Linked DNA regions of Homo sapiens: region 1 is linked to region 2. Evidence: fine-mapped expression QTL. A gene starts in region 2. The other region holds a variant in brackets. All regions are shown on one strand. Distances are from middle to middle.

Region 1 (15,296 bases), 270 kb after region 2:
TTTGGTTTTAGCTGGGGTACAACTCAGATTTCTCATTTATCTTTAATGTAATGCATAGTTATTGAGCACCGACTGGGCCAAGCACTGTCAAGGCCCCAAGTGCCCAATGGCCCCTTGCAGATGGAATAAGTAGATTAATGCGGGACCTTGACACTGACTCTCTTCTGTCTCAGATTTGGTATTTTCCTATTTTACTGGAATTTGGCCAGACTCTAACCAGTGTCTCCTAAAACAAAACACAATAAAATAAATGAGTTAACTGAATCTGCTCAAAGATCTAAAATAAGCCAAAACTCCAAAGATGTTGGTGTAGATTGAGTGCAGGCAACATTCCTCATGAAAGATAAAATAAAACCACAAAAATGTGCATATCTTTTGACCTAATAAATGTTCATAAAAATCTTTCCTATGGAAACACTTCAAAATATGGGATCAAGGTATATGCAAGATGTTCATTATTAGCATTAAAATGTAACATGCAAACTACCTCCAAAGAGAACTCGCTTTAGGCTGTTCTTGCATTGTTATAAAGAAATACATGAGGCCAGGTTCAGAGGCATATGCCTATAATCCCAGCACTTTGAGAGGCCAAGGAGGGTGGATCACATGAGGCTAGGAGTTCAAGACCAGCTTAGTCAACATGATGAAACCTCATCTCTACAAAAAAATACAAAAATTAGACGGGTGTGATGGTGAATACCTGTAATCCCAGCTCCTCGGGTGGCTGAAGCACGAGAATCGCTTGAACCCAGGAGGCAGAGGTTGCAGTGAGCCAAGATCATGCCAGGCACTCCAGCCTGGGTGACAGAGCCAAACTGTCGCAAACAAAAAAATTCAGTAAAATTTTGAATTATTATCTTACCCAACTGACATAAAACTCATCTAGTAACAAATGTGTTATTTTTAATGTAAAAGAAAAATTGAAAATTATTATTATAGGTTGTATCAAAACAGGAATACGATGTATGTAAAATGCCTTCCAGGTTAATGTATCTGTCAGAGAGTCTGTTGCATGAATAAACAGAAAGTTAACAAAACAAGACTGTTCAAAACTAGCTAATAAAAAATCATGTTATTTTCTTTTAAAATGTAAACCTAAATTTATAGATAATGATATTGCTTGGCTTACAGTATAAGCTGAGTAAAAAGGTCAAACTGAGAGACAAGTTATGAACTGCACAGTTTGTAGATTCCTCTCCATCCCTGATTCTGTTACTCTGTTTGAGCTCTCACCAATTCTTGCCTGGACGCTGGAAATGGCCTTTACAGGGGTCTCATACCTCTGCGCTCAGCCATTCAAAGGCAACACAGACAGCGAATCCATTCACGTGGCTGATCTAAAATGCAATTCTGATCACTGCTCAATCGCAGCAGTGGTGCGTCGAGACTTGCTGAAACGACATGCTCTTTTCCAGGGCCCTGAGATCCTTCAGAATCTGCGTCTCCCGCGTCCCTGACACATTTCTTGCTCCTGCCTGTGCCTAGCATGCATGTCATGTCACAACAGGGACGTGCTTGGAGCTGTCCACACTCCATGCGTCCTCTACTTTTTATTTCACTCAAAGACTCTCCAGCTGGAATGCGCTTCGCCTGCCTGCCTCTCAGCCTCGGTCACAACCTCACAAAGCTCCCTGCCCTTCCCTACCAGGCAGGTTAACCACTCTCCTCGGATATCACCCGGAGAGTGTCATGTGGCTCTCCCCTTGTTTCCACATTACTTTACACTTTACAACTCTCTGGCCTCCTGTCCTTGAGGGCGGGGATTAAAATTCCACGTTTTAAAACTCTTTGGCCAGTGCGTGGTGTCTGGTCATAATTTTTAAAAAATGGTTTGAATAAACAAAGCAGTGATACACAATGAATGAGTGAGCTGGCTACACACAGGTGCTAGAACTTTTTCACCTGTCTTTATTTATTTCCAAATGATATGAGTCTGTTAAGATGCACCTCAGGTTGTCTATGCTCCCCAAGACTTTCTTAGACTCTCTTGGTCCATAGACGTGTAGCCCTTCTTTTCTGAATTGAGTTCCCACTTCGAGACTAGGCCACTTCAGCATCTTTCTGCAGAGCCAACTCGTACTTTCGGAATTGTATGAGCCAGTTCTTAAATGAGTGGGAGCTTAAAATTAGCCATGGTAAGAATATTGACACCATGGAAATTGGCAAACCCTACAAATGAGGGGTTTCGTTGTTGTTTTCGGAGAGCCAGCTGTGAAAGCTACAGTCACAGCACTCTGCATTTGTGTGTGTGTGTGCGTGTACACGCAGACATCTATAATTTTACTTTGTGTGTATTTTCTTACCCTAACAATATTGTAAGTCCTACATGACAGGGAGCCTATATTTTCTGTTTATATAAATAAAAATTATGTATTTACTTATTTATAGAACCTATCTCATCTACTCTGAAAATGTGTTGTTTGGATAAAATATGGACTTCAGAAATCTAAATGTCAAATAAAAACAAAAATAATGTGAGAGGAAGAGAAAAGCCATATAATGAACATCCAGATTCAGATAACTACTGTGACTAAGGATTAAACATTTGCTCTGAGCTTCATAGCAGCCAAAAGAAAAACTGGCATTTTTCATTTTACTTTATTATCTGTTACTAAACAGTGACTAAAAGGATAATGTACATTGACATTGAACAAAAGCATAATAAAAAGTGATTTTTAATTATGTCCTGGCCATGTATGCCATTTTATATATTAATTTTACTCAGTTTCACAACCACAGAGATAATTCTTATTATCGTTTTTGGACAAAGAAGGCACGGAAGTTTGCACGGGTAAGTGCCTAGTCAAGTTCATGCACAGCTAGTCAAAGAGGAAGTACCCATGGGCATGGGATCCAAGACAGTGATCCGTTGTTCCCAGCCATGTTATACTACCTTTCTTGGTTACAACGGAGATGCCTATCATGAAACTGTATAAAACAGACAGATATGTATTCTATATGGTAATTATTTACAAAAATATTCCAAAAAAATGTAGCCATCATGAGTTTCAGAGGTAACTCAGGGATGATAGTTTACTGAGGCTCACTAATAAGGTCTGTGTGTTATCCAAGGGTTTAGCCTAATAAGAAGACAGGATTTCGAAGCTCTGGACACAGGCATCCATGGGTCACATCTGACACTAACTTCCTCAAATGCTAATTGCTCAGCTGGCTTTCAACACTTAATGAGAGACACAGTTCAAAGTTAAAACTCAGATTGCTACTTGAAGGTCAGTCCATAAGTTTGGGTTAAAGAACAAAACAAAAATTGTTTATGTACGGGTGGAATTTACTCATAGTAAGACGTTTCCGGTGTGATGAATGATTTGAACGATTTGTTTCAAGCATATTACTACTTATCTGTGTAACATAAATAGTGGGATGTCCCAGGCTTCCAGCCTCAGGACTTTGTGCTGGCTCCTCAGAGCTACTGCCCATGTGAGTAACAGACACCTGCATGCAGTTACCTAGAAGCAGATATCCACATGCAGCTGCCCACATGCTAATGTCCACAAGCAGATACCCACATGCAGATACCCACACGCAGATGCCCACATGCAGATACCCACATGCAGATACCCACATGCAGATACCCACATGCAGAATGCAGATGCCCACATGCAGATGCCCACATGCAGATGCCCACATGCAGATATGCACATGCAGCTGCCCACATGCTAATGTCCACATGCAGATACCCATGTGCAGAATGCAGATGCCCACATGCAGATACCCACATGCAGATGCCCACATGCAGAATGAAGATATCCACATGTAGCTGTCCATATGCAAATGCCTACATGCAGATACCCACGTGCAGATGCCCACATACAGACACCTACACACAGATGCCGACATGCAGATACCTACATGCAGATACCGACGTGCAGATGCCCACATACAGACACCTACACACAGATGCCAACATGCAGATACCTACATGCAGATACCCACATGCAGAATACAGATGCCCACATGCAGATGCCCACACACGGATACCCACGTGCAGATACCCACATGCAGATACACACATGCAGATACCCACATGCAGATACACACTCGCAGATGCCCACACGCAGATGCCCCCATACAGAAACCTACATACAGAAACCTACACACAGAAACCTACATGCAGTCAACATGAACACTAATTTCCTCCTGTTTATCTGGCCCTAAACAAGATGCGGCGCAAACCAGATTCAGTCTCTGTTCTTTAGGACTCAAGTTTCATCAGAGAGAAAGAGAACCACAAAAATACAAATGGCAGTGTCATTTCTAAGGGCTCTGGAAGGGACATATTCAGGATTCTATGCCAGCACATGGTGGGAAGGGCCTGACTTTCGTGGGGATGGAGGAAGGGCAGTGTTGTAAGGGGATCATGGAAAGCGCTGGTGAGATTTCAGTGACAATGAATCCAAAGACTAACTTGTACATGTTTAGCATTTTTCTGGATATACTTATTCTTCTCATGATTGTAAGAATGTGAACTGGATAAAGCAATTTGCACAACAGTAAACCTAATTCGTATGATAAAAAATAAAAAGTGATGTGTGAGTTAAAAACCTGCAAATAAAGAGTGGGCACTCTGTATAGATTATTGGATCCCAGAAGCATTCAGTGGGAACTTCCTGGAGGAGATAGTATTTCAATCGGGTCTAAAGAACAGAAAAAAACCCAGATCGGAACATCCATGAAATACAAAATTCAAGGTAATGTTTTGCCCTAAAATAGGCTGGAAACATGAATAAGCTTGATGAATAAATGTGGAAAGATAAATAAATGTGGAAAGATGAATAAATGTGGAATTAAGAAATAAACAACAATGCAAAGGCTGGTGATGGGGATAATAAGCACAATGTTTCCAAAATGTTCTATGCTAAGGATGTCAAGAATACCTGTTGGCTGGCCACACACCTTGAAGTCAGTAAGTCATGTGCACTTTGTGGTTTATACTCTCTGTTACCAACACCAAATCTCCTGTCTCCAGTATTCAGTGATAGAAATTCTTTTTCTTCTTAAGAATCCCATGTATCTTATTATTATGTACATAGAGTTATTTGGCAACTGGTTGCTTCCTCTGAAACTTCTGAGCTCAAGGATTATGCTGGAGCAGCCTCAGAGCCCAGCACAGTGCCTGGCCTGTAGCAGGCACTTGGTCGATTTTGTGTTTTGAATGCTTTAGACTGTTTCTTGTTAAGTTTGTTAAAATTTACAAAATTACTTGCAGACACTCTTCACCCCACTTGGGCATCCTTAATGAGCCACTCTGGATGATAGAATGTGGCCCAGAACCACACATGGATGCTATTTGACTGAATTAAGTGAGCGTAGGAGAGAAGCCCCTTGTACAAGGAGTGATGGGACCAGCTGGCTCACGACGGCAAGTGCAAGCCGTCCATGAAGAACTCCCTTGAGTGACAAACACTCTCTTCTCTCCTGCTTGTCACAGCAGGTGTGGAGAGACCTGACATGGCAGAGCCATGGGTTCTGCCTCCAGAGGTTGTAGGAGAAGGGGGACTGCTGCTGTTTTTGGAGCACAGACCATAAATTACTCACTGATTGAGAGCACGTGGCTCCTCCTTCCCAAGTCTTTCTTCCACGTCACTCACACCTGGATGCCACCATGCCCGGATGCACTCTCCATGCACTTTTCTTGCCCCCCTTGCTCCTGGAATTTGCCAGGATGTGTAGGCATCAGGCCTGCCTTTAGGCATCCTGAGTAGAGCCACGGAAGACCTAAATTAGCTGGGATGGGTCCATTTGACAATCACCCAGGCCAAACTGACACTTGCAATCTGAGTCACTGCATTTTAACTGTTTATTAAGTGGTGACAGTGACAGCTAGATAGTTTAGAGGAAGGGCCCCTTCCCAGTGTGTTCCGGGAGTGCACTGCTCTAGAGAGAAGGCAGAGGCATGATAGCATGGGCGGTGCTGACGGTGGAGGGGCTGCTGTTATTGTAGACCACAGGATGAACACACAACTGAATCTCTCTGCTCTTTTGTCTTGTGGAAAAATGGTTTGTTAGAAGTCACTCTAAAAAGTAGCCCTCTCCTCTGTATCCCTAGCTTTGGGCAGCTTTTCGTGAGTGTTGTTTTGGGGAGCATGGAGAGCTCATTTGGCAGTAGGAAAACGCCTTCCTGAATTTGACAGGTACCATGTTTCCATTGAAAAGCCACAACGTGCGTGGCCCTGACACCTCAGAAAAGAGGACAGGCTTCGATAGGAATCTGATCTGCTTTGAAGAGGCCAGGAAGCCTTTCCTGCTTACCAGGAAATGCCCACATTCTGAGCATACCATCTTTCCGCCTGGCTCGTTGATTAGCTGCAATATGGGTCTGGTATACATTTTACAAGTGAGATGCATTGATGGGTGGGGTTAAGTATCCCTGGCCAGGAAAGAATGAGAACACACAGCAGTGGACTCTCTAGGGTGGCCACTTCGTTGGGGGCAGCACTGACAAACACAGGAGGACACAAGCGCAAAGATGGGCTTGGCTTTTTCTCACAATTTTGCCTCAAGTCAGACTTGTTTGCCTCCTAGGAACTGTTTGCTAGAATAAGAGTGTGAATGTCAGGAAAATACATGTGCCCCCACACACTTCTGTAGAGCACATATGTTGCCAGCTACAGTAAACAAAAGTGCCTTATGCAAGCAGGACTAATGCAAGAAAAAAAAAAAGGCTGGGGCAAGTGTGGAAGGATTTAGACTCGAGTCCTGAATTCAAGACCCAAGTCCTTCACTTTGTGCCCTGTGATTATCCTGGATACAAATCTCTTGGCTCATCTGGGCCTAAGTTTTGTTTTGTTTAATTTCATGCATAAAATGAGGAGACTGATAACAATCCCTACCTTGGAGGATGGTTTTAAAGATCAAGGAGCTAATGCAGGGGATCTCAACCTCAATGCTACTGACACTTTGAGCTGAATAGTTGCTGTGGAGGTGTGCCTGGGCATGGCAGGGGTCCCTGGCCTTTCCCCACCAGACGCTAATAGAACTCCCTCCTTCCCTAGTTATAGCAGCCAAAGATGTCTCCAGACTTCGCCAAATGTCCCCTGGAAGAGCAAAATTGGCCCCAGTTGAAAACCACTGATTAAATGTATATACAATTATTTGAAAGAGGAGAGAACTCTCTACACATTTGTTAGGCATGGAGATAGAAATAACAATGAGGAGGTGACAACATTTACATATTCTAAGTGGGTATAGTGGAAGTCGGGCATAAACTGATGCCCAATGTCAAGTTGATGGGGTAGGAAATCAGATTAATTCAGCCTGATATATTATGGCTTGATACTACTGTGAAAATGCCATATTTAATTAAACAAATTCTGTTTCTTTCTTCCTAGTAAAGGGGAAGGGAAAAAAGAAAATGAGTAACACATTAAATTGCAGGATATTAATTATACAGAGCTACATATTAACTGTTATGCATCCTAAGGAGCTAATTTTCTTCACACTGTTATTATTATTTGTTACTTGTATAGCACCGTTGATGTAAACAGACTGTTTTAGAAATACGCCCATAAAGTTCACTGCTGTTCCGTGAGTGTGCTGTATAATTACGCATTTACCTTCTAGTAAGCAAGTGAGAAGCACAGCTCACTCACGGCAAAAACCCATTGCAGTCGCGTTGATCTGACTTTCTAAAAATCTCTGAGTAGCAGCTACAACATGTTGTGCTGGAAACAGAATTGATATCATCTGAATAAACAAGAGTCTTGAGAAGAAATCTATTTTTGTTATATATATTTTTTTACATTAAAGAAAAGGGCCAGTCTTTCTCAGAAAGAGTTTCACACCGGGGGTATTTTTCAGAGGAGGGGTATTTTTTGGTTTTCTGTTTTCTCTTCTGTGGGGCTGATCCATCCCTGTCAAGTCTGCAAAGTGTGTTGTGCGTGGGTGGAAAGGCAAACCACACAGAACATGCTCTTTGCCATAGTCAGGTCACCTTCAATACCACATGACGAGTTTCTTAAGAAGGGAAAAAAAATGCAACAAAAAGAAAACACACAGACACAAATGATTGAAAAACCAATATGAATTATATGCCAAAAGGTGGCTTCACATTTTCAGCTCAGATCACCAATGTCAGCAAAACCCTTTCCCACCGTGTGTCAGCCGTGGACAGGTGGAAGATGGAGGGCGGCATGCAGGCCTCTCTGTCATGGAGCAGCTGGGCTGGTGCTGATGAAATCACCATTGATCCACCCCGTAGTATGGACTGTAGATGATTTCTAGCTTAGACACATTTGTAGGCAATCTTTTGGGGAATGGAGTGTAATCACTGTATTGGTCAAAAATATTCACACTTCCTGTTTTTTGTTTTTTGTTTTCTTTTTATTCTGCACATGGCTTGGAGCAATGAACACCTAAGATTCCGGATACATTTCTTTAAAAAGGATATATTGCTTGTATGGCTCAAACAGAACTCCTCATAACAAACAATCTTTCAGTTTCATGAGTAAGGTTGTGGTCCTCAACTTTGACAAGAATGGCAGCCTCACTACTTATTTATCAAAGAAAATGGCTCCAAAATGGAAACTACACATCTCTTGGGCTCCAGAGTCCAGGATGTTATGTAGCTGGTGAACTTCTCAGGCAGATAAACTTATAAGGCTTGAAAAATCTGTTGACTGGTTCCCTTGCAAATTCCAAGAAGTAGATGTATACAGTGATGGGTATTTATCTTTAGGGAAAAAATGAAGATTGAAAATAAGAAAAAAACAATATTTGAATAAATAA[A/G]TTCTCATCACACAAATTTTTTTAAAATATCTGTCTTTTCTCCTCACCAAAGATGATGGTTATGGGTGTTTTAGCCTGGAGAAAAACAAAAAAATCTTTGTCCAAATACATATAAACCTATAAAAGTATGTTTAAATTTCTCTACATATTAAGGATTTTACCTAGTTCTCCAATTAACAATTAGATGATTTTATACATTTTTCAATTCAATCTATTTGTCAGATGTGCTGTATTCTTAACAGGAATGCTCAGTAATTCTCCACCAAGGAGGAAGTCAGATGTGGGGAGGGGTGTGGAGCTGCCATGAGAGAGCAGGTGTTTCTCTCCCCCTCCCCTTAGATGGTGAGGGAGGAGAACCACTGACACAGGAGAAGTCCTGGGGTGCTGTGATCATTGTTATTCTCTAAGGCAGACATTTCACTCAGAGATGAGACTTCAAGGGTGAATTTCCAACACTTGGAACAAATACTTCATGAATTTACCAAAAGCCTGATTACCTCAGATGTAAGTTGAGATGATTTAACACACAGTATTTCAAGAAGTTTATTTTTAGGAAGATAATGGAAAACAAAGTTTATCCAAGCACTATGAGACAATAACTTAGGTGAGACATAGAAACGCATTCCAATACAGCAAATTTAAATAGAAAGGAAGGCGAGTGCCTAGCTGGTAGTTTTATGCCTCATTCTGTGAAAGCAGAGATAAAAGTCAGGTTACATGGGAGCCATGTGAAGCTTTCTTTGCTGCGCACTCCTGCCCTTACCTGTGAGCACACGGTATGTGTGTGAGTGCTCTGTCCCAGGCCTGATTCTTACCCTTTGGGGCTCGTGATGCAGCCAGCTCTCCGTGAAGTCCATCTCACATCTCAGTACCCAAGGCCTCTTTAGAAAATAAAATTTATGTAGGAAATAAACTGTGCTTTTATGTTGTTACAAAACAATAGAAGCGGGACCTTCACCTGCCTTCCCTGTTCTCAGCAGTTTGAGATGACATGTGGGTGCTCACTGTCACCTCTTAGAATCACATGTTACGCCTTTTCCAGGATAGTCCCCAGTGAAAACCTCCCAGACTGTGGAGGGAGCATTTGAGAGCACCACGAGGGCGATGAGACTCAGGTAACGGCAGGGACTAAGGTGAAGGCTCCTAGGGAGGAGACCCAGCAGGGGTGCCTGATCCAGACTGGGGGATCTGGAGTACAGGGTTTTGTCATGAAGAAAGCAATTTTAATCAGGAAACAGCTAGCTTGGTGAGAGTGAATTGGGGAGGCAGAGAGTTCTGGGCAGATAGAACTGTAGGTGATAGATTCGGAAGCCAGAGACCCTGGAACATTCTAGGAGCTTGAAAAATTTCTGTGTGGGTCCAGTTAGAGTAAGGGGTGGTCGCGAGGTGGGACCCAGCATGCTTAGGCGGGGAGATGCTGTTAATGGAAGGCTCTATTAATGATGGGTAGGGCCAGAGGATTATGAAGGAGTCAATACTAACTTCTAAGGACCTTGCAATACCCACGCAAATTTGCATTTTATTCCTGGGGGGATTCCTGTAGAGAAAAGAAAGATCGGCCTGGCACGGTGGCTCACGCCTGTAATCCCAACACTTTGGGAGGCTGAGGGGGGCGGATCAGGAAGTTAGGAGATCGAAGCCATCCTGGCTGACACAGTGAAACTCCGTCTCCACTAAAAAAAATATACAAAAAATTAGCCGGGTGTGGTGGCGGGCGCCTGTAGTCCCAGCTACTCTGGAGGCAGAAGCAGGAGAATGGCGAGAATCTGGGAGGTGGAGCTTGCAGTGAGCCGAGATCGCGTCACTGCACACCAGCCTGGGGGACAGAACGAGACCCTGTCTCAGTAAATAAATAAATACATAAATATAAAAATAAATAAAGAAAAAAAAGAGGAAAGATCCAGGAGACAAAAAATGGAATCCTGTCCGATGAAGGGTACCTTTGCCTCAACAGTGAGCCCTGGGCAGGTAGTTTGTCCCATGACTTCTCTTTAGAGGCCCGGATGCTGTTTTATGCTGGGCAGACAAATAGGTTTAATGGAGAGATTTTAATTAATAAACCTAAAAAATGAAAAGACAACATTAAAAAGAAGAAAAATGCTTGGTGGTTTCTGATTTAGGTCTAGAGAGGGCATTAATACATCACTACGATTTTTTTTCTTTTTAGCCTTATACATATTTTTCCTTTTAAAATCTAACTATGTGTCTAAAGTTAGCAGGGAATTATAAAAAGAGAAAAAAAGTCATTCTTCATTCTCTCAGTCTAATTCAACAAATGCTTAGGAGTTAATGAATTTTCTTCAAACCTTTTCCCCTTAGGAGTGAGTGTCTTACCACATTTGTATTCATATTATATACACAGTTTAAACCCAGTTTTTCATATAACATTATGTCATAGACATTTTTCTTATTATTGGAGTCCATAGCCATCATTTTAAGTAAAAAGATAATAATTCATCAAGAAAGTACACTATATCATATCTATTCTCCTATTCTTAAGTTATGATCACCTTTTTGCTACATAAAGGATCTATTTTTGTGGGTCTTCCCAAGAGTTTTGAATTATGCCTTTGGGAATTGATTCCAAGACCTGTAATTTCCATTGAATGTGTATCAATGTACTTATATGTCTTTTTCTTCATATTACCAAAATGTTTTCCAAATGGATTATACCAATCTACACTCAGACTATCTGCTCCAGAGAAAAATAGCCTTCTGGGGAACTTGTGGGGACTTCTCATCCACACTCCATGCTCTACGTTGTATCATCCTTCTTGGCTGTGAAGAGAAGTCTGAGCAAGGCAAATGCTATGGAAGCCCACCAGATGGACACATATATGAATAGAGTTTGCTTCTGGCCACATTTTCACCTTTAGGAATTGTCAGGATGCAGTTCTCTATGGTGTCTCTGCATCTCAGACTACATTTATCTAGCAGCATTAGAAGCTAGTGTCTCCCTTAAGGGCAAAGGGCAGACTTGTTTTGTGATCAAGATAATAAGGATAGTGTCTCCTTCAGAAACAAAGTTTGGGCAGGTTTGCTAGCAGCCCCATTAAGGTTAGGGGTTTGGCACCCCATGTTCCTCAGCTGTGATGCAGACCCCATTGTACATGGCAATCACCTGGGCCTACCTTGGGGACATATGGAACCGATGCAACAAGAAGCTCATGCTGCCTGTTGTGCTGTGACTAATAGGCTGTCTAGATCCATTCCCCACCCATGGAATCTACAGAAGGGTGGCTAGCCAGCCCAGAAGCTGCAGTGGCTGCTGCTCCTGAGGGATTCCTTAACCATGAGACGACAGGTTGTGAAAGTATGGACCGACAATATCTGGGCAGAAGAGGCTGCAACCAAGGGCAGAAATGTGCCTGGCTTCTGGTACAAACTACAGCACCTATTATTTATTGTGTTAATTTTCTGAGGGCCTATGTAGCAACTACTCCTGTTTGCTTGTAGAAGACCTGAGATCCAGGAGTCAGATACACTCAGATGCAACTGCCGGTTTCAGTGCTTACTCCTTCCATGACCCTGAGCATGGTACTCTCTATGCCTCAGTTCCCATGTATGAAACAGAAATTGTAAGAGAATCTCACAAATTTGTTTAATGAGATGATATAGTGAAGTGCATGGCATTGTGAACTGGCTCATAGCATATACTGAAAATATGTTACCTAGTACTTCTTTGCTGCTTGATTATAAGATTTGAACAGCTTTTCATTCTCCAAAGACCAGATAATTTGGTATACAGAAAAATCTTAATTGGTAATCAAACCCAGCCTTATAGTTTTACTGATTGAAAAAAGGAACGCAGTGACTTGCCTTCTGCTAAAATGGACACCAAGTTAGTACTGGGCAGTATTAGCATACATACCTCCTCAGTATCAGCTCAACTCCCTCTCTACTGGAACTTCAATTCACCATGTAGTAATCGAGACAGAGTGAAGTGTTCTGTAGATAGGAAGTAAAGAGAGACAAGATGGAATTAAGTTTAAAAACACATAGAGAAGCTAGGGATTGCCACAGGACCACTCTTAAAACTAGACAGACAGAGGCTGGGTGCGGTGGCTCACACCTGTAATCCTAGCACTTTGGGAAGCAAAGGCGGGCAGATCACTTGAGGTCAGGGGCTCGAGACCAGCCTTGCCGACATGGAGAAGCCCCTTCTCTACTAAAAATACAAAAAATAGCCAGGTGTGGTGGCATGCACCTGTAGTCCCCACTACTTGGGAGGCTGAGGAAGGAGAATCACTTGAACCTAGGGGGCAGAGGTTGCAGTGAGCTGAGATCGAGCCACTGCACTCCAGCCTGGGTGACAGACAGACGGAGACTCTGTCTTAAAAAAAATAAAAATAGACAGGAAGCAATTTGAAGTATTATTGAGATAATATTTCTGATAGAAAACAAAGGCTTCAAATTCTATGGACTAAGAGTAAAATAGCTTATTTAGAAAGGTGGTTCTCAGGTTCTCATTCTGAGACAATTCACTTTTGCTATTACAAGTAAAACTAAATTTGAATGTTGCCTACTAAAATCACATAACATGAAAAGTTGCAATAGGATAGAAGACATACACAAAAGCAGAAACATGTTATTAAAAGAAGATATGCAAACTCAAAAGTAAAATAGCATAAATTCATAAATGTTGAGTAGAACACATCTCAAAACTGTCTGTACCCACAGTTGCATTGTTGTACAAGTCATAGAATATTTCCTAAGCTAATGATTAGGAAAGCCTTATGCAAGCTATAAATCCATCAAAACATGTAAATTAATATAATTAATAATGTAAAGTAATATGATTAATATTATAAATAATACTGCGTAAGCATTTTCTTAGGCTAGAATATGCTCTGGTAATAACACCTATGTCTTAGAAGGTTGATGCAATAATGGTTTGCATTTCTTAGTCATGAAAATTCCACTGCAGTTCTTGGCAATTTTTCAGGGTAGCCCTCCACGTAGTAATTCAATGATTCTTATCGCTCTGATCTAGTGCATCTACCACTTCAATGTGAGACATCCTTGATCACCATGACAGGGGAAGACAGCTTGAAGTTTGCAGCCGATCTTGCATATGTTGGCCCCAAATAAGCATACTTTGCTTACATCCACAGCCTAGGGCCACAGCTAACTAGTCAAGAAGAGTGGGAAATAGGACAGACAAACTGAGTGCTTGGGGGATCCCCATTCTCATGAATAAAATTGTTAAATTATTGTCTGTGGATGATTTTTTTTCTAAGAAAGCACCTAACTGCGCAATGAATTTGGAAAGAGATTCGTGCAAACATTCCTTAAAATTCAGATGAAAAGTGGTGCTTGGTGTGATAAAGGCTTAATTACCAACAAAATTCAAATCTCCAAAACACGTCATTTCATAGAATTAATAAGCAAGGTTTTTACTCTGTTGTGAAAGTTAGTGTGGTTTTAAAAGTGAGGGCTTATAAACTGGTTAAATAAAACATTCTTCTATCAAAACGCTATACAAACCCTAAGAATAATGCAATAGAGCTGTATGGGCTGATATGGTAAAAGCAATGCACAGCAAAATGTGGGAAGAGTGTGATTCCATTTCTGTGCATGCATTCCTGTGTACACACATGCATGGTTGGTCTTCATTTTCCAGGATCTCTTGCAGCCAGGTGTGTCCATGTAACAGAGTTCTAGCCCATAAACTATGAGCAAAATAGCTGTATACTGTTTTACAGATTCCAGCTTGGCCCGTAAGCTCTGCTCTAGCCATCTTCCACGAGTTTCTCTTCTACCTGGGCTTCTACTCAATATGAAAAAAGCTGGGCCAGGCACAGTGGCTCATGCCTGGAATCCCAGCACTTTGGGAGGCCAAGGAGGATCACAAGTTCAGGAGATCGAGACCATCCTGGCTAACATGGTGAAACCCCATCTCTACTAAAAATACAAAAATTAGCTGGACATGGTGGTATGTGCCTGTGGTCCCAGAGGCTGAGGCAGAAGAATCGCATGAACCCGCGAGGCGAAGGTTGCAGTGAGCAGAGATCGCACCACTGCACTCCAGCCTGGGCAACAGAGTGAGACTCTGTCTCAAGAAAAAAAAATAGGAAGAAAAGAAAAGAAAAGAAAAGAAAAGAAAAGAAAAGAAAAGAAAAAAACTGAACCTTGCATCCCTGCTTGGAAGAGGGATGCCCACCAACAGGAACACCTCTTTTATACTTTATGTGAGTAAGAAATTAAGCTCTAGTACCCTTCAGCCTTTATGCATATTAAAGTTTCCCTGTTCTACAGCTATCTTACTTGGACTAAAAGAAATTAAAGTCTGTAGTTGCTCCATGAGGGAGTGAGATGGAGGATAGTGGTGGCACTAAGTGCCCTTAAATTGTTGAATTAAGATCTTCAAAAATCAAAGATTAAAAAGGAAATAAAACAAAACACTGATCGTGTTATACACTTGCTTATTTGCACTTATCTCTTTCTGCTAAATATTTAATATTGAAGAGAAAACAAAAGAAATCATTTAGTTGACAAGCACGTGTGTCAATTATATAACCAATATTTTAACTTAAGCACTTGGAGCCTCA
Region 2 (15,296 bases):
ATAAAAAACAAATGTTGAATGAAGAATAGTCTGAGGCAGTGGAAAAGATCTAATTGATTAATAAGAACAGGAAATGATAGTTAATTGACAGGGGAACATTAGTTGGAAGACAAACATTAGTTGGAAGACAAACCCCCACTCTTAAAATCCATCTAGGAGAGCAGACTGTAGATTGAACGGATGTTTTGAATTAAAAGAATGTCACCGTCTTTGCTGATTTGCCACATTTATAAAAAGGGGGTAAGGCAATTTCTAAATAAATAAACTCAATCTTTTGAAAGGCTAATTCCATCAAGCTACGGTGGTGAATATTGTCCCACTTCAACTTTGTATTATTGCTGTTCAAACAGTAGACATCTCTCCCTGACTCTCCCAACACCTGGGACCCCCAAGAGATGTCCTGCACAAAGCTTACTGTTTACGAGATCTCTTTGTGTTATGTTCCATTTAGACTGCTGACCACTTTTTCATTCATTCCTCGATTAGCATCATGTTAAATTTGTGAAATTCTATTTCTATTTATCATATTGCTCTCAAAAGGCTAAGCCTGAATGCTGGTGTACATTTTCTTGCTAATGTACATTTTTCTCATTTCTGTGTTTCTTTATTTTTAGTAGATTTGGAATACACAAAAGTCCCCCTGATTAAGCTTTTAGAATCACCATTGTCTCATTAGTAGTGCATGTATACATGATTATTCCATTGAAAACAATCAGGAAACTGGATACAATGTCCTTCCAGCTGCTACCTGAGAGGTCTTAATATTCAGTGTGTAATTGAGAACGACAACCACCACAATAATAGTAATACATGGCTTGTATAATTTTCTACTTTTTAAGAAGATTAAATATAATAGCATATGCTAAAGTACTGAGTAAAGTAGACAGTTCTATGTAACTATTATCCATACTTGTTTTCATTAGCTGAACTCTTGATAAATGTCAAAAATCTACTTTTCGCTGACACTGTTAAAATCCAATTTTCAGAACATTTCACTTTACAAAATAACTTCACAACTTTGATCCTCCGTATTCATAACAGTGATCTTGCCAGGTGGTTGTTATTACCAATTCCAGAAAGATAAACGAAACTACAGACAGCCCAAGTGGTTTGCATCAGGTGGCATAGCTAGTGGATGTCAGAGCTGTCCATGAAGTTAGACCCATCCACCTTTACAACACATGCTACTCCCTGAAGCCACATTCTTTTACATACGGGAGACATTCCTGAAGCAGAGAAATAGCACTTAGTTCTTTTCTGAAATGCTTTGCCCTCCCTTGAAAGGAGGGGCATAGTCCAGTTGTCCAAGTAGCTAGAGAATTAAGTAGAAATGATACTTTTGTTCTTTTTAAACGTTTCTGGCTTAGTTTTGATGTACCAGATACTGAGTAACAATAATATTTTTTTTCCTAGAAATAATAACTGCAAACATCATAGCAAGGCACCAGCATTTCTGCATCTCATTTAATTAGAAATGGAGAGACTGAAAGTAAAACTGGTAAGTCATATATGCAAGAGAGACAGATCGTCCACGGCAGCGCTGCATGCTGAACCCAGGCAGCTGACTCCAGAGCTCTGTTGCTCAGCTTCGGCCTTTGGTAGTGTGACTCCAGCTTTTCTTGTTTCTCTTTGGTCCAGACCTGACCACAGGAAAATAAATCCATAGCCAGTTTGAGATGTTAGATCACAGTTACTTTTGCATTTTCCAAATGTATTGAGAATGCCTACAACATGTCATATAGCAGTAACATTGTTTTGGTTACACAGATACTTCAGGGAGAACAATGCAATTTCGCTAAGTTTTCCACTGAAAGCAGTCACCTCTGTGTGGAGAAAATTCAGGAATCCCAAACCCAGGAATGATGTCTTGGTGGAAAACTGAAATGTTTGGAACTGGAAATTCAGAGTGGAAATGCCCTCCTAAATGAAGAGAGGCTGCTGTTACAATGGCATTAATTATTTAAAAACAAGCAACAGAAAATAAAAATGTCTCAGGAAAATTGCATTCATACATGACAGAGGAATGGTGCTGCCTTCTCATATGAAGTAGTCAGCAAGGGTTTGCATGTCAGTGAGAGTTTGCATGCTGGGAATAAGGCCACCACTAGATCTCAGGTCAGCCGAATGCCACAGCCAGTTTTATGCATTGTTCACTCCCATCTGAACAAATGCTTAGGGAAGGGGTGGGACAAAACTGGGCTTTTCAAGCAGACTGCTTTGGTTTGGAATTCTGTCTCTAGCGCTTGCTAACTATGGACCTAGGGGAGTTCCTTAACTTTAGTAAACCTCAACTTTCTCATCCTTTTAATTGGGATTAAATAACAGCCATGCCGCATGTTACACAGACACTTCCCACAACGTTTTGCTGCTTCTGTTTCCATGCTAAGCCCGCTGCACTGAGAGCTACTTGAGAAAAGTATCCAGGGTGTTGTTTCCTCCCTATTTTCCTAGTGCTTAGTGCATGGTAGGCATTTAATACAAGGTTGATACACGGGAATCATCTATCTTCTGCTTGGGGGACACAAATTCTAAAGGTCGGGTTGAATTTAATGGTAGAAAGGGAAGACAGGAAAACAGTGGCAAATGTTTGGATCCATGCAAAGTTAGCACACTCATTTCTGGCTTTAATTTATTTAAATGGGCCCTGAAATCATAGATGCTTTTCCATCTAATTTAGAGATACTGAAGGACATTCATTGAGCGAACAGTAAAACTCGCCTTCAGTGGGTCCGTGACTGTTAATACCAATCCTATGTAGTTAATGTTGTATTCTCCAAAATTGTATTTTCCATAGAGTAATTATGAGTCAGGCAAAAAGAAAAACTGTAAATTAATCAGGGTTTACACAGTAAACAATGCACCTAAAAAGAGTCTTAATGAGCGAAGCATTGTCCAAAGCAGCCTGCTTTTAAATATACATTTCTGAGTAGATATGACTTATGATGACTGCTCCTTTCTTAATTTCATTCAATTTGTTGGATGGGTGATAGGAGCACGCATATGAATGTACTGATATATCTTATAGGGCTGTATTCCGGCAGTGCCCTGGATTCGTATAATGTGCCTTTTCCCAGAAACAGAAGCATCTTTTCCTCTGTCAGGTTCTTTACCAATGGGGGCTCGGCTGGAAGGGCTTCATCCTTGAGGACACTGCTGCTCTCCTTCCCTATGGAGGATCACACAGTGTCCACGCACACATGAGCCACTGCCGTTAACTTTGACGAGAACCGCGTGCGGTTTGGGGGTGATTTAGCCTTTAAACAATTCCACTCTGGGTCCCTAAGAGTTTAGCTCTGCTTCCCTGATGTGCAGTTTCCTGAATTCAGGCCAGGAGGGCATCACCCATTTCTCAGTCATACACCAAATCGGGCTAACCATTTGACTACATGGTACACTTTAATGAAGTTTTCCCAAGTGCAAAAGGAATGTGCAATGGCCGCCCTTTTCCAGGCACTTTCATACATGACATCCGTACATGCATGAATGCACTGCGCCGAGAATCTGTTGGTTCTTTTGCATGTGTTGTCTCCAGTCCTCACCAGGCCCTTATGCAGTGGCTACTGTCATTATTGTGAAGAGGGCAAGCCCCAGATTGACTATCTAGAGGCATATCGCACTGCTGCCGTTTCCTCTGTCTGTGCCTTTCGGCAAGTCAATCCTTCCAAGCCTCAGTTTCCTTATCTGTAAAATGGAAAGTCTACTTCTTAGGTTGTTATCGGGATTGCCACCCCTAACATATTGTTGGCCAAGTGGGAAAAGCTCAATAAACACTGTCATTAATCTCATTGTGAATTAGACTGGGTTCAAAAAGGTTAAAACCAACAATAATAATTGCATCCCTTTCCCTATAGCTTTCATGTCTCTCCTAGACAAAGAATAAAGTTTTGTAAGTTTTCAGTCTTAAGCATAGAACTCATTTCTCCCGAGACTTCATTTTCATGGTAGGGTAGTACAGATTGAATATCCCTTATCAAAAGTGCTTGGGGCCAGAAGTGTTTTGGATTTTGAATTCTGTCAGATTTTGAAATATTTGCATTATGCTTACCCATCGAGCATCCCAAATCCAAAAATTTGAAACTTGAAATGCTCCAATAAGCATTCTCTTTGAGTGTCATGTAACTGCTCAAAAAATTCTGGATTTATGAACACTTCAGATTTTGGATTTTGGGGTTGTAATGCTTAATCCATAGTAGATAAAGGCACTTTGTCAGCTCCATCAGAGCAAGCTTCCTCAGAAGCACTACCTGGTGATCACTCTCATTCCTTCCCAAAGTTTCATTTCTCTCTCTCTCTCTCTGTCTCTGGAGACAGTGTCTTGCTCTGTCCCCCAGGCTGGAGTGCAGTGGCATGATCACAACTCACTATAGCCTCAACTTCTTGGGCTCAAGTGATCCTTTCTCTTCAGTCTCCTGTGTAGCTGGGACTATGGATGTGCACCACCATGCCTGGCTAATTTTTTTAAATTTTTATTTTAGCAGAGATAGGGGGTCACTATGATGTCCAGGCTGGTCCTGAACTCCTGGCCTCAAGCAATTCTCCCACCTTGGCCTCCCAAAGTTCCTGGATTACAAGTGTGAGCCCACCGTGCCTGGCCTTAAAGTTCAATCTTAACATGGGCCCTGGCCCTGTTCTACTTCTAAAGATCTCTTTTGAATTCTCAACCCCACCTTTATCATGGGCTTCTGTTCTGTCCTTCAGAAAAGCCCGCCAGAACCAAAGATGGAAGTTACTGAAGATGGTGAAGCTAGGGAACCCCAATAAGAGCTCCCATCTTATTTCTCATTGCTTGCTTACAAGCACACTATTCTCTAGCTTCTGACCTATGAAAAGTGCTTGGCACACATTTGTGCAACAAAACTGACTGTGCTAGCTCCAGGTGCAAAACTGCCCAGCAACCACTAGACACAGTTCCTGCCCCACTGTGCTCACCCCACCTGAACTAACCAAATTATTCTGGCATAACCATGTTAGAAAAGGACTCTTGGGGACTGCTACGGGACAGCCAAGGTGGCTCAGGGGTGCTAGACAATGTGCATCTCAACATGCTTCACAAATGATTGCTTATGTTTAATAGTACATGCTCACGTGCATGCTATAATGGCTATCATTTTACACATCGTAGCTCACTCTGCACAAATAACTCTAAGAGATTTTTCCTCTTGTTTCAGAGACATAGAGAGATTAAGGAACATGCCCAAGTGCAATATGGTTAGGGAGTGGTGAAGCTAGGCTGCAAATCTGGCTCTTTTTGGCCCTGCACTTTAGGCTTTAATTCTGCCAAGCCAAAATGCCAACACAAACTGTCACACTCCATCTACCATCTTTTTTTTTTTTTTTTTTTCTGAGACAGAGTCTCGCTCTGTCCTCCAGGCTGGAGTGTGATCTTGGCTCAGTGTAACCTCTGCCTCCCGGGTTCAAGCAATTCTCCTGCCTCAGCCTCCCGAGTAGCTGGGATTACAGGTGCCCACCACCATGCCTGGCTAACTTTTATATTTTTAGTAGAGACAGGGTTTCACCATGTTGGTCAGGCTGGTCTCGAACTCCTGACCTCGGGTGATCCACCCACTTCGGCCTCCAAAGTGCTGGGATTACAGGCATCAGCCACTGTTCTTGGCCCCATTTATCACCTTAGCTCTGAGACCGGCCTCCAAGAGGGGTTCCCTGTGGAGTAAGATGTGCACATTCTACTTATTCTCTCTTCTAGGTCAAGTGAGAAAATGTACTTGAAATCACTTTGTAAGCTATAAGGTACTCTATAGAGAGTACCTTATATATATACATGTATAAATGTACACATATCTATACACATAAGTACAACTATATTGCTCACAATTCACAAGAAATGTGTGATTCATGTTAAATATTCAACATGTCGAATGTATTGGGGTTGTCTATCTTGATATAGATACTTGTTCACAAGCTATTAGTATGCCCTATTGACATTTCATACAAATAAACACAATACACACACACACACACACACACACCCATGTTGCTCTTCCCTCTTGGGAATGTTTGCTCAAGAGGCTGAGGCTGAAGTTGGCCTCCTGCTATGTCTGAGAGCAGCCCTTGCATAGGTGTGAGTGTGCACAGGAATTTATTTTCTAACCAAGGGAGAAATTGACAAAGTGAATAGAAAAACCACAAAAGCAGCTAAGTTAGATTTGGGTTCAAAAAAAGAATGCAGACAGAAAAGGAAGACTGTGAGGGGAGAGTTGATAGGTGGTTTAAGGAATGTCTGGCGAGAGGCAAGGAATAGAGTAAAGAAGAGAAAAAGTAATAAAAATAACTGCAACACTCACCTCTGAGAACAAATGACTGTAGTTGCTGCATGCTTAACGTCCCCATCTTATGAAGCACCACACATCAGCAGAAATGAGATACACAGCAGGGAGGTGTTAGAAATCTGGTTTTGCAGATGATTTTGTCAAATCACCTACAGCTTTGCTCAAACCAGTTCCAAAGGCTTTAACCACATGGTTTGCTTGTGTGCACCTATTTCCTGAGTTGCTCTAAATTGCATGACTTGGGGTGTAATGGCAATTCTTTGGGTTTTTGTGGCTCCATTTCTATGAGACACATGATTAGAAATCCTGTTTGCTTTTTGCTTGTCAAGCCTTAATCAGCTACCACGCTGGGCTTGTGTGAGGGCCCTGATAATCAGCCTGCTTTATGGAGAAGGCAGAGTGGAAACAGGACAGGAGACTTCCCATGGCACGGATACAGAAACGCAGCTTTCTTCGGGTTCTCCTTAAACTCGGAAAGTATCTCTTGTCTGAAAAATTTAAGTCACAATCTCTAATTAATTAGCTAACTAGCTCCCCCTCTTGAAACGTCTTTCAGATAAAAACTGCATAATGCTGCAAAGCAATGGCCTAAAATCAGACTAATCTACGTCTACGGCAGTCCTTAGGATCCATTGTGTCAGAAAAATACATAGAAATGTCTTAAAATCTGCCCAAACACAAAAACTGTAACTGTGCTATTACTTTCGTTGGGTTTATACCTTTCAAATCATCTTTTTTCCTTAAAGGTATTTTGACACAGCTTAAAAAAGAAAGGCACCAAAAGCCTTAGCCTGTACAGCGAGCTATAAAATTGCTGCGAGCTTAAACAGTCAAGGTAGGAAAAATGGCAAAAGTTATGTCCCCAACAAATAAGCTTGTGCTTTTGTCATAAATGAAGACTCTTAAAATGTGATGCCACCCCATGACTTATTTTGTATTATCTTATTTTTGTTTTGCTCCAGTCATTCTCTCCCTTTATCTTACATCAAAAACAAGAAAAGTTTTGCCTATGTCTACAACTTAAGTGAGGAACCTATTATGTGATTATGATATAAAATTCAGAGCCAGTGATAGGCCGTCGTGTGGTGTAAACATTTCAGAGGATAAGAATAATAGCAAAGAACTAAATTGAAATGTAATCCGTGCTGAGATACTGTAACAAAGTCTCGTAATCTCTTTAAGCCAGCTGTTCTCAACTTTGGCTGCCTATTTGAATCTTGCAGAGATCTTAAATCCTTCTTGATGCCTGGGTCTCACCCTCCAGGGATTCCGATTTCATTTGTCTAGGTTGTGACCTAGTGTCATGGGTTTTAACAGCTCCCCAGGTGATTCAAATATGTGGCCACGATTGAGAGCCCTCTTGTCAGCTGACTGTACTGTATACACGGATCTCTGACAGTAAAGGTCATCACCTGGTTCCCTGATTTGTTCTGGTCTTATTTGTGTGCCAATGGCTCTTTCTTGGACTTCAGAGTTTTATCTGCACAGATGATTCTGATACTGCTTCTGGGACTGCTGACCCAGTGTGGGCACTTGGTCATGACAGCTTTTTGACCCTATGCTGGTCTACAGGTGGCTAGGGCCCCTGTAACAAAGTATGAAGACTGGGTGGCTAAACAGTAGAAATGTATTGTCTCATAGTTCTGGAGGCTGGAAGCCCGAGATCGAAATGTCTGCGGAGTTGGTTCCCTCTGTGGCCTCTCTCTTGCTTGCAGGCAGTTCCTTTGCCCTGTTTCCCTACATGGTCTTCCCCCTGGCGTGTCTGTGTTCTAATCTCCTTTTATAAACACACAGGTGAGATTGGATTAGGCCCACCCATATGACCAAATTTTAATTCAGCAACCTCTTTGAAGGCCCTGTCTCCACAGGCACATTTTGAGATATTGGATGTTAGGGTTTCAACATATGAACGTGGGGGTACAGAATTCAGCCCTTAACAGCCAAGAGGATGTCTGCACTAGCAACATGCATGCCTTTGTCATAGCTCTGCTCCAACTATGAGTTGGGAAAATGTCAGAGATAATCGGAGTGCACAAACTATTCTCAACCATCTTCCTGGGCTTGCTTTATCAGTCAAAGTAGCAGCCACTGGGGTATCCATTCCCAGGCAAACTCTCCTGTATGGCTGAATCAGCCAGCAGGCTTAACCTGTGGAATGGCCTGGAAAACTCACCTTCCATCTCAAGGATTCTGTAAAATGTCTGGGTGCCCTTTTCCAGGGCTTCGGGAAGTGGGAAGCCCCAACCCCACCGCTCCCAGCAGGTGCAGCAGGAGCTCTTTTCCTCAGCTGCTGGTGTTTCAAGGTGGCTCAAACACCTGACCACCCAGCTGATCTCAGTGACACTGTGTGCCATCAGAGGCTACAGGTCTGTTGGAAAGAACATGTTGATTCCTCCTATTAGTAGGAGATTAGTTCTTACATTTGGTGGTTCAATCTCTGGACTTTTAGTTTCTTCTTGGTTTTCCCTAAGTTTGACTCTCAAAATCTCCTTGGTTTGGACTTATTCTTCCAGTTGGATACACTTCCACGTTCATTCCTGTAAAGGAAGATGTAGTTAGATTCATTTGCAAACAGAGCTTCTCTAACTCCTTCTGCACTCTCAGGTTCTTCACCCATTTCACCTTCACCCCTTGCCAAACTGGCTTAGCCTAGCTTAGCGCTTGGATTGTTTAGCATTGTATTGGGTTCCAGGTATTTCTGGAAGTGTCGATTGAGTCCTCTAATTAGTCAGTGCTTCAGAATGTCTATGATTTTTCAAGTCCTCTTTTTTGGCTTCACACTGTTAAAAATTACACTTAGTATCAAGGTTAAAATACAGATGATAGTAGTGCATTTTTTGAGTTCCCTGAGAGCATGTAGCATGTAGCTGTCAGTTTCCGGCATCTAGTGCATGCCATAGTCCTCGCTTCTAGGGGTCGCTTTCCAAAGTTTCAGTTACCCTTGGTTAACTGTGGTCTAAAATAGTCCATGGAAAATTTCAGAAATAAACAATTCAGAAATTTACATTGCTCGCTGTCCTGCGTCATGTGAGTGAAATCTCACCTGGGAAGTGAATCAGCCTCTGTCCAGCGGATCCACGCTATCCATGCTCCCCACTCATGACTCACTGAGCAGCAACCTCAGAGATCAGATCGACTATGGTGGTGCCACCATGCTTGTGTTCAGATCACCCTGATTTTACTGCATAATGGTCCTGGAGCGCAAGAGTAGTAATGCTGGCAACGTCGATGTACTAAACAGAAGCCATAGAGTGCTGCCTTTAAGTGAAAAGAGGAAAGTTCTCGGCTTCAGGAAAGAAAAAAAATTGTGTGCTGAGGCTGCTAAGATTCAGTCTTCTACTCAAGAAATTGTGAAGAAAAAAAGAAATTCATGCTAGTTTTGCTGTCACACCTCAAACTGCAAAAGTTACAGCTGCGGTGCGTGTTAAGTGCTTAGTTAAAATGAAAAAGGCTCTACATTTGTGGATAGAAGACATGAACCGAAACATGTTCCACTTGATGGCAATAGGGTCAGTACTGCCTGTGGTTTCAGCCACCTACAGGGTGTCTTAGAATGTATCCCCTGTAATTAAGGAAAGACTACTGTACTAATTAAAAACCCAGTGATTCGAATTGAGACAGACTTATTGAATTAAACCTATCATTTTCTGTCAAAACTGATAGGGACCCAAGACTATTTACACTTGGAGGTGGATAAAATCCAGAGAAGAGACGTGAGTGGTCTGAGGCCATACAGTGAGCTAAGGTCAGAGCCAGGATTAGCTCTATGTTGATTAATGTGTCCCATGCTTCCAACTCATGAGCATTTTGCCTTAGGAAGATGGCAAAACTGGATAGTATTTCATGGCCTTGAGTTTAGCATACTTCTATGTAGCACTTAATTTTTGAAAATAAAGAGTCGTATGGATGTTTGAATTTTTAAACACGCAGTCCTTCAGAGGAAACCATGCAGCTTGCAGACTGTGGGGAGAAGATGGTCTGTAATAAAAGAGCTGGCCTGAGCCTCCCGATGGCCAGCTCCTCTCAACTCGTAACAACCATCTGGATTGTCTGTGTGGAGACCAGATTGCCTGTTATGTCCACCAAATGAGTTGCCTTGCCCTAGAAAAACAAAATTCAAACATCTATCAAAGAAACCTGTCATCTCCCTGTCTTCCTCTGCAGAAATCAGCTTCCTTCTCACTTCCACTGGAGGCCCAGTAAGAGAGTTCATCTCTGCAAATCCGTAGGGTGACAGCTGCCAGGGGGGACTTCTGGACCAGAATCTGACGGGTAAGAGAAGACTCCCGATGAGAAAGTCAAAAGGAGGCGTTCAGCGTGGGTTTTCTCTGGCACTGTTGTCAGTAGTTTAAGAAAACAATCCCTACATATAGGTTGGGTAAAATCCTCTTTTCCTCGTCCCCTTTGCTGAATAGAAGGTGGAAATTTGGGACATTTTGTCTGCAGAGTTCTGTGCTCTGCAACTCCCTCTCTTTTGTTTCTCAGAATAAGGGAATCACTAAAAGGTTAAAACTCTCTCCCTAAAAAAAAAGAAAAAGAAAAAAGAAAAGAAAGAAAGAAAAAAAAGAAAAAGGAAAGTAGAGTTGGTTTGATTCGGCATTTAATTAGGGCTTTTTGTCTCCGTTTTACATTAGTGGGTCTTCTCCTGCTTAAGCACATGGTTGTTCTGATTTTCAAGTTTCTTCTTAAGTTGCTTTAATTTTGCTGTGAATTGTTTTGTGAGGCCAGCTCCAAGGAATGAGCAAATGCCTTCCTGGCATGGAGCTTTGCTATCAGCAGAAAAAACAACACAAATATTTTCCCAAGTAAAATGGCAGCCATTTAACAAATCAATTGTAGCAATTGTACATGACAGGCCTGAGAATTTTATACCTGTTCATAAAATATCTATTTCAAGAGCCCACAGCAGAATACATTTTGCAAACTGCTATACAAAGGAAACATCCACCAAATCATTTTATTTCTTGTAAATTTTTTTGTTAATTTTTAATTGTGATAGTACATATCACACTGATTGCCACACCAAGAGGGGGCATATAATAGAATAATCTGTTAAAAGAACATTCAAAAATCCCTATAGCCTACAGGATTTACCTTGAAATGTACTTTGCAGGTAGACTGTGGTGAAGGCATGCCGTTTTATTGAAACAGCAGAATATTTGTGGATAGTTCAGATACAATTTTCTCACGAGGCTCAAGAATCTAACTTACTTAATATAAAAAACCCTTATTATTCTGCTTTCTTACTCAAAGATTTCAGAGATATACTCAAGGTCTCTCTATGAAGAGAATAAAAGCTTATTTGCAAAAGAAATGTTAAGTTCCAAAACCTTGTTGATATGGTTTGGCTTTGTGTCCCCATCCAAATCCCATTTCAAATTGTAATCCCCAGGTATTGAGGGAGGGACCTGGTGGGAGGTGATTGGATCATAGAGGTGATTTCCCCATGCTATTCTCCTGACAGCAAGGGAGTTCTCATGAGATCTGGTTGTTTGATAAATGTCTGGGACTTACCCCTTCTCTCTCTCTTGCCTGCTGCCACATGAGACTTGCCTGAATCTCTTCCACCATGATCGTGAAGAAGGTGCCTTGCTTTCCCTTCACCTTCCATCATGATTGTAAGTTTCCTGAGGCCTCCCCAGCCATGTGGAACTGTGAGTCAATTAAACCTCTTTTCTTCATAAATTACCCAGTTTCAGACAGCACTTTATAGCAGTTTGAAAATGGACTAATATCCTTGCTTGCATATGAAGCATCATGCTAGACCAAGGGGCGTGGGGAGTAAAAACAGGAAGATGCTGACTGTTATTGAGGAAACACTAAGTACACGTGTGTACATCTATAATTATACACACATACACAGTAGCAGTCACAAGACCAGGACACACACACATATTTGTGTACATATATAACTATACACACATCCACAGTAGCAGTCACAATACTAGTGTTACCAGTGGAGAATGTCCAGGTTCTTGGTGTCTTGAACAAAGAATTGAACAAAATGCACAAACAAAGCAAGAAAAGAAGGAAGCAACAAAGGCAGAGGTTTGTTGAAAACAAAAGTACACTCCACAGGGTGGGAGTGGGTATGAGCATAGGGGCTCAACAGCCCTGTTATAGAATGTTCTGGGGTTTAAAAACCCTCTAGAGGTTTCCATTGGTTACTTGATAGAAATGAAGAGAATGAAGTCAAGTTACAAAGCCATTTACTTGGTGTACACCCTATGTAAATGCAGAGGATATTTCCTGTCATAGCTGAAGTGTTTCCATTTGATTTAGTTCTTGAAAGTCCTTAGGTTCCCTGCCTCCAGGTCTTGTTCTCCTGCCTCACTAGGCCATACACATATGTGCATAAATATGTAAATATACATATACATTTAATGAATTCAAGTTACACACAGTTACTCACAGGTTTGCTTGTGCTTTCACAAACTAACAAAGATTGCTCAGCTGGACTCAGTGCCTCACACCTGTAATCCCAGCACTTTTGGAGGTTGTGGTGAGAAGACCACTTGAGGCCAGGAGTTTGAGACCAGCCTGGGCAACATAGTGAGAACCCTGTCTCTACAGAAAATAAAAACAAAACAAAACAAAAGACTGCTCTATGTCTGCAATAACTTTTCCCATATGCACAAATCTTCCCCACTGCTTTTTGGTGAATTCCTTTTCTATCTTAAAATTGTTGGCCAAATAGCACTTCTTTTAGAAAGTCTTCCCAACTGTGCTCTTCCATCACCATCTGATTGACGGCTATTTCGTTTGCACTCCGTTAATTGCTGGAGCATTCCTTCTTGAAATTTTATTATGGCACGTCCATGATCACACTTGAGTTAAACCATGAAAGTACATCTCTGAGGAGTCTCATTTTATATCTCCCAATCCCTTCCCATCAGAAGCTAACAGGATGGGAAGAGACGTGCCTGCATCATCAAGGAGTTCAGGCAGCTGCAGAAGAAAAAGCAGGTCTAAAGAGGGCGGTGTCCCAACAGGTGCTGGCGAGGATGTGGAGAAATAGGAACATTTTACACTGTTGGTGGGACTGTAAACTAGTTCAACCATTGTGGAAGTCAGTGTGGCGATTCCTCGGGATCTAGAACTAGAAATACCATTTGACCCAGCCATCCCATTACTGGGTATATACCCAAAGGACTATAAATCATGCTGCTATGAAGACACATGCACACGTATGTTTATTTCGGCACTACTCACAATAGCAAAGACTTGTAACCAACCCAAATGTCCAACAATGATAGACTGGATTAAGAAAATGTGGCACATATACACCATGGAATACTATGTAGCCATAAAAAAGGATGAGTTCATGTCCTTTGTAGGGACATGGATGAAGCTGGAAACCATCATTCTCAGCAAACTATCGCAAGGACAAAAAACCAAATACCTTATGTTCTCACTCATAGGTGGGATTTGAACAATGAGAGCACTTGGACACAGGAAGGGGAACATCACACCCCGGGGCCTGTTGTGGGGTGGTGGGAGGGGGAGGGATAGCATTAGGAGATATACCTAATGTAAATGATGAGTTAATGGGTGCAGCACACCAACATGGCACATGTATATATATGTAACAAACCTGCAAGTTGTGCACAGGTACCCTAGAACTTAAAGTGTAATAAATATATATATATATAAAATAAAAAAATAAAAAAATAAAGACGGCGGTTTCCACTGGGCTAGAGTTGCACAGTCCTGGGAGATGAGATTGGGAAGTTGTATAAAGACAACTGGAAAATGTATTTGAATATAAAGCTAAGAATATCTTTTTTGGATGTAGTATAGTTTAGTTAATAAAAGCATAAATTTTAGAGCTAGATTGTGATAGACAATCCAAACTGACTTATTTACTAGTTGTGTAAACCTGGGGCAAATTTCTTAGCTCACTTTTCCCACCGTATAAATTATGGAGCTAAATTACCACCCACCTCCTAGGGCTGTTGTAAGGTTAAGATGAGTGAAACTGTGCAAAGCATTTAGTGCAGTGCCTGGAATTTGTAAATACTATGCAAGTATTTACCATTGTTATTATTATTACTGTAACATATTCTTTAGTTCTGAAGGAAATGGGAAGCAAATTAAAGTTTGGGGAACACAGAAATTAAAATTGACAAAACATACCCCAATGCATCGATCTATTTACTCTTTTCCTAGATCCTTAGGCTGTGGAAGGTTTAGATAGGTAAAATAGGGCAAGGTGCTGGATCCCTGTAGCCCAGCTCCACATTTGCTATAGAAAAGCACACACTATGTCCAAACTTGGGTCTGCCCATGATAGAAATAGTTTTGTTTTTTTTTTTATGAAAAGTAAATTGACCTGATACTAGTATTCAATTGGATTAATAATATACATATCAAATGGTATACTAGAATAGTTAGGAGTAAATCTTCCTAATATGGATTTAAAATGCAAAAACAAATAGATCACTTCGTATGTAGAAAGTCTAATGATACTGTTGACTATAGATTTTACTGCTTAAATGATGCTGATACATATTTAATAAATATATAAAAGAAAAAAGCCAGGCGCGGCGGCTCACACCTGCAATCCCAGCACTTTGGGAGGCAGAGGGGGCAGATCAAGAGGTCAGGAGTTCGAGGCCATCCTGGCCAACATGGTGAAACCCCGTCTCTACTAAAAATACAAAAATTAGCTAGGCATGGTGGTGCATGCCTGTAATCCCAGCTACTCGGGAGGCTGAGGCAGGAGAATCGCTTGAACCTGGGAGGTGGAGGTTGCAGTGGTAAGCTGAGATCGCGCTACCGTACTCCAGCCTGGCGACAGAGCAAGACTCTGTCCCCGCAAAAAAAGAGCGAAGCACTGGAGGAAGCCACAACTTACAGAGATTCAGCTTTTGAAGACCCCAGTTCTGTCTGGGAGGTTTGACACAGGGAAGGACAGAGGAAAGTTGAGCCATCCCAACTGATTTTCACTCCTGTGCAGGAGTTAGCTCTTTAATTTGGCACAACAGTGGAAACGTTACAATGGGAAAA

What was found. PIP is the estimated chance that this variant, and not a neighbour inherited with it, causes the effect.
Region 1: its variant is the best candidate, but not a certain one, in a credible set for the expression of LINC01871 in whole blood (INTERVAL, PIP 0.85).

What each region holds. Positions count from the first base shown.
Region 1 is chr2:7,443,277-7,458,572 of GRCh38, reverse strand. It overlaps LOC100506274 (a long non-coding RNA gene), which reads right to left. Exons shown (of 6, transcript NR_038432.1): 5 at 12,617-12,693; 6 at 8,319-8,689. Among named protein-coding and RNA genes, the nearest start is that of LINC01871, 270 kb to the left of the region's middle. RefSeq lists a silencer at 674-866. The variant A/G (reference allele first, on the strand shown) is at 8,746.
Region 2 is chr2:7,716,860-7,732,155 of GRCh38, reverse strand. LINC01871 (long intergenic non-protein coding RNA 1871) reads right to left here and starts at 6,377. Exons shown (of 2, transcript NR_183384.1): 1 at 6,303-6,377; 2 at 1,435-1,640.